Regions from separate parts of the Homo sapiens genome. Here regions 2 and 3 are each linked to region 1. The links come from fine-mapping of genetic effects on gene expression. A gene starts in region 1. Each other region holds a variant in brackets. All regions are shown on one strand. Distances are between the middles of the regions.

The links. PIP is the estimated chance that this variant, and not a neighbour inherited with it, causes the effect.
Region 2: its variant is the best candidate, but not a certain one, in a credible set for the expression of FBXO48 in thyroid (GTEx, PIP 0.62).
Region 3: its variant is the best candidate, but not a certain one, in a credible set for the expression of FBXO48 in whole blood (TOPMed, PIP 0.82).

Annotation. Positions count from the first base shown.
Region 1 is chr2:68,465,031-68,469,274 of GRCh38, reverse strand. FBXO48 (F-box protein 48) reads left to right here and starts at 1,981. Exons shown (of 4, transcript NM_001024680.3): 1 at 1,981-2,064; 2 at 2,805-3,131; 3 at 4,097-4,244. The coding sequence starts at 4,130. It overlaps APLF (aprataxin and PNKP like factor), which reads right to left and starts at 1,690. Exons shown (of 10, transcript NM_173545.3): 1 at 1,448-1,690. The coding sequence starts at 1,543. RefSeq lists a silencer at 1,406-1,615 and enhancers at 957-1,851, 1,852-2,747, 2,841-2,900.
Region 2 is chr2:68,434,110-68,438,353 of GRCh38, reverse strand. No RefSeq gene overlaps it. Among named protein-coding and RNA genes, the nearest start is that of FBXO48, 31 kb to the left of the region's middle. The variant T/C (reference allele first, on the strand shown) is at 2,120.
Region 3 is chr2:68,492,141-68,496,384 of GRCh38, reverse strand. The region is part of intron 2 of APLF (aprataxin and PNKP like factor); the gene reads right to left. Among named protein-coding and RNA genes, the nearest start is that of APLF, 27 kb to the right of the region's middle. The variant G/A (reference allele first, on the strand shown) is at 2,495.

The DNA of each region.
Region 1 (4,244 bases):
GTCACCAGACATATGATTACTAGATTAAGCACATACTCTTAAGTTTCAAACCTACGAATTTAAAAGAAAAATAAAGCCTCCAGACAGTTCCTTCCAGTGTTTGTATAGGCCAACAAACGATGAAAAAAATAGAAATGATGTTAAATATTTAAATAATCACTTGTCCAGTAAAAAAATGAACAGCAATTGAATATCTACTTCCTCAATAACCTTACCACATGCACATGTGCATGTACACAACACACAACACACAACACACACACACACACACACACACACACACACCCCTTTAGGACCAGCTTCCATAATACAATCTTAAACTACCACTCCTTTCCCTGCTCCCAGAAGGGACCTAAGGCAAGTACCAATGGTTCCATTTAGACTCTGGAAGTTAACCAGGACAACAGTACACACTCCTTACTCCTTGGTGTTAGCTCACTGACACAGGTGTCTCCCCGGTCCCAAGAGAAAACTCCTAAAGGGTAGGGACCCATGTTCCATTCATCTTTGTATGCCCCACAGTGCTAGAATCTGCAAAATGTTCTACACAGTGAGCACCAAACAAGAAATGTTGAATGTTAAAGAACAAAATAGAAAACTAGATGTACTTAAGAGATCTATAGAATTCCAGAATGCAATATGCAAATGTTCTTATTCCTAAACCTCTCCCAAAGAAGGTAGAGAATATTTAGCTTTGTGGCATTATGTGTCCAAAAGCTTATGTATGGACTTTAAATAATGTATGTATGGCTCAATTTTCTCATCTGAACAATGAGGATAATAAAAATAGCTAACTGATACGGTCTTGAGACAGTTAAAGATGTTGGTATAGGTAATGTCTCCTTAGACCAATGACACGAACGCTATACACATTACTTATGAAGGGTTAGCTACTCATTTTACTGGAAATAATAAATAATATAAATAAATAAGGTCCACACAGCTCTGCAAAGGAGACCAAAGGTTAAAAGAAATTAGCCTAGAAGACGTAATATCACAGTTTGGCAAACTTTTCTGTAAAGGACCAGACACTACTGTAAATATTTTAGGCTTTACAAGACAAGCCGCAATACCCTCAACCCTTGGAGCAACTATTCCCCCTGAAAAATTAGTAGATTTTTTGTTTACATTTTACATTTCAGAATTTAAGAATCATTCTTAGTTCATGGGGCCATACAAACATAGGCTGGATTTGGCCCCCAGGCACTAGTTTGCCAATCCCTGGATAAGATAATAATGGTAATACAGTCAGTGTTTTAAAAGCAACATAAAGAAATGTTTGTGAATTGGCTTAAAGGTAACTGAAAAACGTGCGGCCCCAAACTTCTAAAATCCGGACCGGCGGACCAGTGCGGTGGGGAAACCGGCCAGGACTAGGGCCGGTCTTCAGGAGCCGGCGCGGAACTCCACGGCTCTCGGGGTCCGCTAAGCCCCCGCCCACACTTACTCCCAGCAGCGGCCCGCGGCCGATCACCGTCTCCCCGGGCGCCAGGGCCACCCGGGGACCGCCGTCCCGCGGCTGCAGCTCGAAGCCCCCGGACATGGCGGGCAAGGATTAGGCCCCTTCGCCAGGAGACTGGCCCCTCCGCTGTTTCCGCCCTCCACAGACACGCGCGGGGCAAGCCCACGCCCTGGGAAAAAACACCGAGGGAGGGCCTCAAAGGCTCCCCGCGGCTGCGCCGGTCCTCTCAGAGCCCGGCCCCAGCGCAGCTTCACGAGTCCCGCCCCTCCACGCCTACTAATGACGCAACCGGGGATTCCCCAGTCTCGCCGCCTCAAAACTACTGTTTAAAAACCCCGGCTTATTCCCCAACACCCTTTTCACCTCCCTCCCATCTTGGAGGACGCCGGGCCTTGTAGTCCTGGTGGCTTTCTTCACTTCCTTTCCCGAGCGGAGACGCCCTGGAAAAAACTACCAATCCCCAAAGGCACTGCGCGCCCCTCTCGGCGCCTGCGCGAGTTCTGAGCAGGGCGGGACTCAGGTGGGCGGGATGCGAAGAGCTATGGGGAAGGATTCGAATTCCGGTGGATTTAAATCGCGGGAGGAGAAGCTACCGCGGCCTAGTAGGTAGAAGGGTCTTCCGTTCCCGTTGGCTTAGGTGTCTACGCTCCCGGGGACGCGGCCTGGACGCAAGCTCAGCCTTCCCTCCGCGGCCTGGAGCCGCAGTGACAGTCAACGCTGACGGTTGTTGTCACTTGTCAGTGCCCTGTGTTCTTGGGTTCCAGCAGCTGCAACCCGCGCGGGACACAAGGAGGGTGGCTCAGACGGGACGTGGGGTGATTAGCCCTGACCCGCGGGATTTGGACGGAGTGGGGCTCCCCGCCCCTCCGACTGCGCTGCCGCCGATCTATCCCTCCGAATGATAGTTGAAAGGGGGACGAGCTTTTACTTCACTTGAGAGAGAATTCAGGAAAGCTCAGTTCATAAAGGAGAAAGGGCAGAAGAGGGGTCGTTTCCAGGCATCCAGGCGAACCTGGACGTAGAAGAAAGATTCCTAGTGGGATTTTAGAAACTCGCAAAGGTATCCCCTGCTGTGAAATTCAAAAGCCTTCATTCCCGTTACAGGAATTCCACAAGGGGACGCATTTTATTCTCCCAGTAAGATCCTGGGAGAAGTGGATAAACACACTGTAACGTTTAAATGCACTGTAACGTTTTCCTAATGTGAGATTCTTTTCAAGAACGTTGTGGTTTGGCTTTGGTTTGTATTGGTGGTGGGAGGGGCCAAGGTGCATGGCAAAAACTTGCTCTTGACTCACCCGTTTTTACGTTTGCTTTCTTACTTCTCCTAACCCTCAAGAAGAAGACCTCTGTTGAACACAGACTGCAGTTCCAGCCACCACAGCTAATCTGGATCATGAATGGGAGCCACCGTGGTCTTGGCAAGTCCGAAAACATAGCTGAGTAGCTCGTCTAGAAAAGAGATTTGTGTTCAGCTGAGTTAAAAGAAGTATTTACCTCAAACCTCTCCTCTTGCACAACCAACCCCCGTTATAAAAGGAAGTGCAAAATGGAATAAACTGATTTTAAGTGAATACAAGCTGTCTTTATATACAAAAGTAACTCAAGGATGGTGATGTACCCAGTCATGCTTTCAACTGATTTGGGAAGCCTACACCATTCACCTTAGGTAAATTAGCTGAAACTGAGCTTTAAATCTGGGCTTCAAAGAGTCACATACTGTACCTAGCTGAGTTCTAAACATTGTTTACAGTTGTCACTCACTGTTGCTTGATGTCTTCAGTGACTATTATCCTTAGCTTGTAATTATGCATGTAGGATAGCTTCAAGGGGCCATTTCTAAAACACTACTCTTATGACTGAGTTGAATATTTGAGACTTTGTTTCATAATCCAGATCTCATCTTCTTGTCCATTTCAGATAGTAGTTGTGTCAAATGTAAGCACCTACCTACCTATAAGATACAAGTAGATAAAATTCTTATATAAACAACTAGAAGTCCAGCAAGTTTATGATTAAGTCACAAATTGCAAATTAATGATGAGGCATCAGTTCCCATGTACAACAAGTATTCAGGAGTTTAATAGGATTGACTCATATACATTTTCAAAGGTACAAAAGTACCGGGTATGGTGGCTCATACCTGTCATCCCAGCACTCTGGGAGGCTGAGGCAGAAGGATTGCTTGAGGACAAGAGTTCAAGACCAGCCTGGACAACATAGCAAGAACCATTTCTCCGTAAAACAGTTTTTGGTTTTCTGTTTTTTTTTTTTTCTTTTTTTTTTTTTTAAAGAGGGGCGGGGTACGCTGAGTCAAGAGAATCGCTTGAGGCTGGAGTTTGAGGCTGCAGTGAGCTATTATGACACATCTGCACTCCAGCCTGGGTGAGAGTGAAACTAACATGTTGGGTGCCTCCCATGTGCAATTCAGATGTAGCAAGACTAGATATTTTACCCACTATCACTGTTAATCCTTGCAAGAACTTTCAGGAGAGCGGCAGCATTGGCCCATTTTACAGATTGAGAAGCTAAAGTCAAGAAAGAGTTCTTAAATTATACCCAAAAAGCATCTGACTTAAAGTAGGATTTATACTCCTATTTGGAGACTGAGCATGTTTAAATTTTGCCTTTTAGGTTACATATGAGGATAACTTAAAACATTAAGCTATGCATAAAAACTCCAAGAGAAACAATAATTTAAGAGTTTCTCACACAGAAGCGAACTCTGTGGATGCTGAGAAGGAAAAAAATGAGAGTCAAAACAACTTTTTTGAACTGCTGC
Region 2 (4,244 bases), 31 kb after region 1:
AACTATATGGTGTTTTTCTGTCCTACAAACTGCCATAGAATGTGGCAGACCCATTCTTTACAAGCCTACTTCTATGCATTTTTTTTTTACTGGATTCATGTCCATTTTCTTTGAAATTACTAACAAATCATTTTGTTGGGTGAGTTTTGTGTGTGAATTTTCTTTGCTCTCCTCCCTTCTTATTCCCTTCACAATGTCAAGGAGTTCCTGACGAGGTATTTGATTTCCTTAAATGCAGAAATGCATAAACCCCAAATGCCTCCAGAGGCCAAGGCAGTGACAAACAGGAATAAAACAGACTCGATGAAAGAAAAATCACCTGACGAAAGGCATAACCAGACTTGCCTTATTTTTATGGAACTATGGCACGAGCACATAATCTCACACATATTTATATAACATAGCAAATTTTATTTTGCCAGTGAAATGGAACACAGATTGAAAAATTAAATATTTAGTTATCCTGAATGCTGTGAGAGGTTGTGGTTTTTTTGTTTTGTTTGTTTTGACGCAGTTTTGCTCTTGTTGCCCAGGCTGGAGTGCAATGGCGTGATCTCGGCTCACTGCAACCTCCATCTCCTGGGTTCAAGTGATTGATTCTCCTGCCACAACCTCCCAAGTAGCTGGGATTACAGTTATGCACCACCATGCCCTGCTAATTTTTTTTTTTCTTTTTTTTTTTCTTTTTTTTTTTTTTTTAGTAGAGACAGGATTTCACCATGTTGGTCAGGCTGGTCTCGAACTTCTGACCTCAGGTGATCTGCCCACCTCGGCCCCACAAAGTGCTGGGATTACAGGTGTGAGCCACCGCACCCAGCCAAGGATTATTTTTTTTACACAACCTATATACATACAGAAAAGTGTCATTTCTTTTTAAAACTGATATAAGAGAGCAGGTGTTTCCCCCAAGACTCCAACCTTTGGGTTTCAGCAAGGGAAAAATATTTAATATTCAATCCATTTCAAACCTTAGGCCAATCCAATAACAATGATTAAATATCAGATTTTTGAGGAAAATGCTCAAGTGACTTTGAGCCAGGAGAAGTCATATAACATCCATTCTTCCATCATTGCTATCCCAAGCAGCACAGTATCTGGTGTTACGTCTGCTGGAGTATAATTGGCTGATGGTGTCCCTGGGCTTTCTGCTGGCATCTACTCCTGCCTTTCAGGTGATGCACGCATGGCCTCTTCTCTACAAAACAGTAAGTGTTGGGGGAGGGGGACAGGGTGTGGGAGAGACTGGCATCTCATGCTAATCAGGCCTACCCTTAGCTATTGCCTGGCTATTGACCAAAATCTCTTCCAAGTCCATGTAGTCCCACAGAGCCAGTCGGTCTCCCTCCAATGTCTGCTGTGGGGCAACCCACTCCTCCCAATGGCAGGGGCAATGATAAACCCTCTGCCTTTCAATCTGAAACAAAGAGGCTTGGAGTTTAAATCAGAGCTACTCTCTTCCTGGTCACACCCAGCAGCTGTCTTGGCTGGGCTGGTTCACCCTACATTGACATGGAGCCTCGTCTCCTCCAGAATCTCAAACTGTAAGCAGGGAAAGCCACTCTGTCTCCAAGTTATCTAGCTTCCCACTCTCCACACCATGGCTCAGAGGCTCGAGCACGACACATTGTTATTGGATTGGCCTAGGGTTTTTTCTGTCCCTCCTGATTCTCTCTCCCTGATTTTCCCATAGCACCAGAACAAGGAGGGGCAGGTTTCTGTCACCACCACCCCCTTCTGGCCTCATCACCTGGCATCCCAGCTGGAGCATCTTCTTTACATGAGCTCCACCATCTGAATTTCCAGGTCTGAAAACAGGAAACCCTTTCCCTCCCACCAGTGACTGGATTGTAAGCCTTGCTGTCAAGCTTAAAGAATGTCAGAGTTGGAATATTATCTTCCTCTCACTCTCACGTGGCTTCTGTAACAGATCCGAATCTCTCCCAAGGCTAAGAGTGATTGTCGTTATCTGGAAAGACACAGAAATGCTTCCCTGTTAAACGACATTGTCTTTTTTAAACTTGTTATTTCTTCTATTTGAAGCTAAAACCTCACACATTTTCTTCCTCACCAAGCTATCACTGTCAGGTCTTGTGTTTCTTATTCAGTTTACAACACAGAG[T/C]TGAGCCTTCAATCCTTTACGTAGGAGAGAGATTTATTTTTATACATAGTGAAAACAGCTGATAATAAGTATAGGTACTTCCAAATATGGATACAATCTTTGCACAATGATTTTCATATCTAGGCTAACCACTCTTAAGATATTTATAAAATTCTGCTCTTCTAAAATAACTTTGTTTCTTTTTTGTGATCTCCTTTAACAACTGTTTAGTAACTTCTTGTAGCAATTTTTCCACACTGTCAGTATTAAGTTAGATGGTAAAAAGAATAGTCTTAACTCATTTTCATAAAGTTTGAAATCAGATAATTTTTTGAAATTTAGTCCTCAGCCTCACAAATGTACTTCATACCATGATTTCTATTTTTGGAAACTGACTTCAGTGTAGCAAAATGGGTCAAATTATTTGCCAGTTGATTTCCCTCAAGAAACAATTTCACTAGGAATGAGTGGATTACACAATGTGTTTATATAACCACTTATGAATACCCATGAAAGGGTATGGTCAAAATGTGATGAGTTACAATGTCAATCAAAAAACCAAGTCTTTCATCCAATCTTCCTGGTTGTCCAAGGGAGGTTTTAAAAAAATTGGATGTTTTTAAAATTGACATTTCAAAAAATCCTTTCAACATTTGGCAGGACTAAGTCAACTGCTGCTACAACTTGTTTAGCCAATTGATTAAGGAGTGCATAGAACTGTGTAGGGATTAAGCAATGGGGCCATATTTTGTTTATACTGATACATTCATAGTGCTCTTCATGTTTTATTTTAAGGAGAGATCATTCCTGGTAACTGTAACACTCAGATGCATTATATTCTTACAAAATATTTTGGTTTTGAATTTAAATTTTATAACATGTCCAGCAATAACACCAATCATTGCAGGAGAATCATCATTTTCATTGGTTTATATTAAAAAGTTTGAGACTTCTTGAAACACAGGATTAAGTAGATAAAAAGAGGTCCAAGGACTGAGCTCTGAGTCACTCTATCTCCAGAGATGAAGCCAGCAAAGGGACAGACAAGTGAGACAGAGGGAAACTAGGAAGTAAAGTGAAATGCTGCAAGGAGGAAGGGAGGGACTATTGACATCAAGTGCTGCTCATAGGTCAAATGATGGAACCAGTAGGCCAATTGGCTCTGATGGCTCACTACTCCACCACTCCACTGCTACTTTCATCTCACCCTCAGGCCCTTTTTCTCCCCATCTCCCATGCCCACTGTGCTTTTGCCATACTGATCTTGATGCTCCTCAGGCAGACTCATGCCTCAGGGCCGTGCACTTGCAGTTTCCTCTGTCTAGCATGCTTTTTCCCCAGATGTCAACATGGCTCATTCTCTTCCTTTAGGTTTCTGCTCCAGTGCCATTTTATTAGCAAGGACTTCCCTGTCTAGCCTTGCCAAGAGAACACCACTGGCCACTGACCCTTGACTCTATTCCTATTATCTCACATATTAATGTCATAATATCATTATGACATATTTATAATGTGATAAACATCATAAATAGATAAAGCTATTTGGTAAGAATATCAGCTCAAGGAGGTCAGCAACTAAAATATTGCCTGGCATGTAGTGATTAATTGATAAGTATTTTGAATGCATATCAATTAATTGAATGCAATGAATAAAAACAGCTGATCAGAATATTTTTATGGTAACTAGGTACAGCCTAATTATTAATCTTCCAAGAAGAGTGAATACCCCAACCTTGACTAAAGGACATATTTTTAGAATCTGAAGAACAAACGTCTTGCAAACACTCTCCCCAGCCCTTTTATCTAACAGGAGGTAAATGGCTACCTGAGAGCATTCTTTTCAAAGTTGTAGGTTAGGCCAGGCATGGTGGCTCATGTAATCCCAGCACTTTGGGAGGCTGACGTGGGAGAATGGCTTGAGCCCAGGAGTTTGAGACCAGCCTGAGCAACATGGTGAAACCCTGTCTCTACTCTTGAAAAAAAAAGTAAAAAAACAAAGTTCTAGGGTAGATACTTTCCCATTTTTGAATACCCTGTAGTAACAACTCTTTCTAACGTGTTTAACTTCATTTTGAATGAATTAAAAAGTAAATGCTATATAAGCATTTGTTTGCACACAGATTAATACAAGAATCACACAGTACTA
Region 3 (4,244 bases), 27 kb before region 1:
ACCTGTAATCCCAGTACTTTGGGAGGCTGAGGCTGGTGAATCACCTGAGGTCAGGAGCTTGAGACCAGGCTGGCTAACATGGCAAAACCCCATCTCCACTAAAAATACAAAAAAAATTAGCCGGGCGTGGTGACACGCGCCTGTAGTCCCAGCTACTTGGGAGGCTGAGGCAGGAGAACTGCTTGAACCCAGGAGGTGGAGGTTGCAGTGAGCTGAAATCACACCACTACACTCCAGCTTGGGTGACACAGCAAGACTCCATCTCAAAAAACAAAAAACAAACAAACAAAAAAACAAGTTCTAATATCCAAGACAATGGAGAAAAGGCCTCAAATGCATTTCAGAGACCTTCATGGCAGCCCCTCTTATCACAGGCCCAGAGGCCTAAGAGAGAAGAATGATCTCATGGGTTAGTCCCAGGGCCCTGCTGCCCTGCATGGCCTTGGGACAGTGCTATCCATATTCCCACTGCTCTGGCTCCAGCCATGGCTCAAAGGACCCCACATACAGCTTGAGCTGCCATTTTGGAGGATGCAAGCCATAAGCCTTGACAGCTCTCACACGGTGTTAAGCCTGTGGGTACACAGAGTGCAAGAGTGGTGGATTCTTGGCAGCCTCCACCTAGATTTCAGAGGATGCATGGAAAAGCCTGGGTATCCAGGCAGAAGCCTGCTGCAGCGGCAAATCCCTTACAAGAGAACTTCTACTAGGGCAGTGCAGAGAATAAATGTGGGATGGGAGGTCCCACACAGAGTCCCCACTTGGGACACTGCCTAGTAGAGCTGTGAGAAGAGGGCCACCATCCTCTAGACCCAAACATAGTATATCTACCAACTCCAGCCTGTGAGAGCAGCCTCAGAGAATGTACCCTCCAAAGCCAGAGGGGTGGAGCTGCCAAAGGTCTTGGGAGCCCACCCTTGGCATCAGTGTGCCCAGGATATGGACACAGAGTCAAAGATTACTTTGGAGCTTTGAGACTTACTGACTGCCCTAATGGGTTTTGAACTTGTGTTGGGCCTACAGACCCTTTGTTTTGAAACAGGGATGTCTACCCAATGCCTATACCCCCATTGTTTCTTAGAAGTAAATAACTTTTGATTTTACAGGCTCATAAATAGAAGAGACTTGCCTTGTCTCAGGTGAGACTTTGGACTTCTCAGGTAATGCTGGAATGAGTTAAGACTTTGGAGAATTATTGGGAAGGCATGATTGTATCTTGCAATGTGAAAAGGACATGAGATTTGGGACAGGTCAGGGGAAGAATTACACAGTTTGGGTATTTGTCCCCACCTGAAACTCATGTTGAATTGTAATCCACAAATGCTGGAGGTGGGGCCTGGTGGGAAGTATTTTAATCATGGGGGTGGGGATACCTCATGGCTTGGTGCTATCTTCCAAATAGTGCATGAGTTCTCGTGAGACTTAGTAATTTAAAAGTGTGTGGCTTAGCAAAGACATGGAGTCAACCTAAATGCCCATCAATGATAGACTGGAAAAAGAAAATGGGGTATATATATACCATGGAATACTCTGCAGCCATGAAAAGGAACAAGAACATGTCCTTTGAAGGGACATGGATGGAGTTGGAAGCCATTATCCTCAGCAAACTAATGCAGGAACAGAAAACCAAACACTGCATGTTCTCACTTATAAGTGGGAGGTGAATGATGAGAACACATGGACACAGGGTGGGAAACAACACACAATGGGGCCTACTAAAGAGTGGAGGGTGGGAGGAGGGAGAACATCAGGAAGAATAGCTAATGGATGCTGGGCTTAATAGCTGGATAATGGAATAATCTGTGCAGTAAACCACCATGGCACACATTCACCTAGGTAATAAACCTGCACACCCTGTACGTGTATCCCTGAGCTTAAAAGTCGAAGAAAAAAAAAAGTGTGTGGCACCTTCCCCTCACTCCCTCTCCCTTGCTCCTGCTTTCAACATGTGACATGCCTATTTCCCCTTTGCCTTCTGCCATGATTGAAAGTTCCCTAAGGCTTCACCAAAAACCTAGCAGATGATGGCACCATGCTTCCTGTAAAGCTTGCCCATGAGCCAATTAAATCTTTTTTCTTTTCTTTTTTTTTTTTTTTTTTTTTTTTTGAGACGGGGTCTCACTCTGTCTCCTAGGCTGGATTACAGTGGTGCGATCTCAGCTTACTGCTATCTCTGTCCCCCTGGGGTTCAAGCAATTCTCCTGCCTCAGCCTCCCGAGTAACTGAGATTACAGACACCCACCACCACGCCTGGCTAATTTTTTTTTTTTCTCTTTTGGGACGGAGTCTCACTCTGTCACCCAGGCTAGAGTGCAGTGGTGTGGTCTCAGCTCACTGCAAGCTCCGCCTCCTGGGTTCATGCCATTCTCCCGTCTCAGCCTCCTGAGTAGCTGGGACTACAGGCACCCGCCACCACGCCTGGATAATTTCTTGTATTTTTAGTAGAGACGGGGTTTCACCATGTTAGCCAGGATGGTCTCCATCTCCTGACCTC[G/A]TGATCCACCCGCCTCAGCCTCCCAAAGTGCTGGGATTACAGGCGTGAGCCACCGCGCCTGGCCACGCCTGGCTAATTTTTGTATTTTAAGTAGAGACAGGGTTTCACCATGTTGGCCAGGCTGGTCTTGAACTTCTGACCTTAAGTGATCTGCCCGCCTTCACCTCCCAAATTGTTGGGATTACAGGTGTGAGCCACAGCACACAGACTAAATCTTTTTTCTTTATAAATTACCCAGTCTCAGGTATTTCTTTATGTCAATGCATGAATGGCCTAATTACGTGTTCCAATTACATGTGTTTCAAATATCTTCTCCCTGTTGTAGTTATCATTTTCATTATAGTGTCTTTTGATAAACGAAGTTTCTTATTTTTATTTCATTGGCTTTTACCAACTGTTTTTATGGTTCATGCTTTTTATATCCTGTTTAAAAACCCTTCCCTACTCTAAAGTCATAAGGGTTTTTCCCTATATTATATTCTAAGAGTTTTATAGTTTGACTCTCACATTTAATCTACCTGGAGTAGATTTTTGGGTCTGCAGTAGGGATCTAATTTTTTTTTCCAAACAGATAACTGTCCCAGTACCATTTACTGATAAAAACTCCTCTTCCCCACTGATACGCAATGCTAGCCCTGGCCCAGTCAAATTTCCACATACATAAGTCCAAATCTAAGGTTGCTTTCAGTTCTAAAATATTATTCAACTGAAGGCACTAAAACTTCTTGTTAAGACAGATCATCAATTAGTTGTAACTTGAAGAAATTTTTTTAAAGAAAAGACACCCAATGCCAAGAGAATCCTGACTTCAGAAACATAACAACAACAAAAAAATACTACAGAGTTCAAAGAACCTGGGCTCTCATTCCCATTCTAGAATTTGCTGAGTATTTAAGATCAGACGTTCTCCAGAAGGCTATGACATTCTAAGTTGTCAAAAAAAGGTACTCGAAAAAGGATAAAAAAGAGCTACCTTTCTCCCATGTCTAAACATCACATTTATGGGAAAGTTTACAAAATTACACTAAATAATATTTAAAAGATCATAAACAGAGGTATAACTTAAATAAATCATTCCAAATTTTAGTTTTATATCTAGTGGTCATGAGGAATTTTTGCTCTAGCTTCTAGTATTATTTCTACTACAGTTTTGTGCTCAAAAGACACCTGTTAATGTCATACATAGTGGTTTTATGATCTGCGTACCATCTAATTAAAGACCCAGTAAAAGTGAAGAGTATTTTAAAAAGGAGCCTTTTTATAACTGAACACTGCTAAAATCTCACATAGAAATTTGGCTCAGTACATACTGGATAAAATTTAACTCAAGGTAAGATTTTCAACTAATAAAATCACCTTTAATTTGGGCATATTTATTTTACATTATTAGTACTCTTTTTTTGTTTGTTTTTTGAGGCGGAGTCTCGTTCTGTCGCCCAGGCTGGAGTGCAGTGGCACAATCTCGGCTCACTGCAAGCTCCGCCTCCCGGGTTCACGCCATTCTCCTGCCTCAGCCTCCAGAGTAGCTGGGACTACAGGCGCCCACCACCGTGCCCGGCTAATTTTTTGTATTTTTAGTAGAGACGGCGTTTCACCGTGTTAGCCAGGATGGTCTCGATCTCCTGACCTCGTGATCCACCCACCCCGGCCTCCCAAAGTGCTGGGATTACAGACGTGAGCCACCGCGCCCAGCCTTATTAGTACTCTTTTGAATAGCCACAAAAGTACAAAATATATCTGAATAATTTTC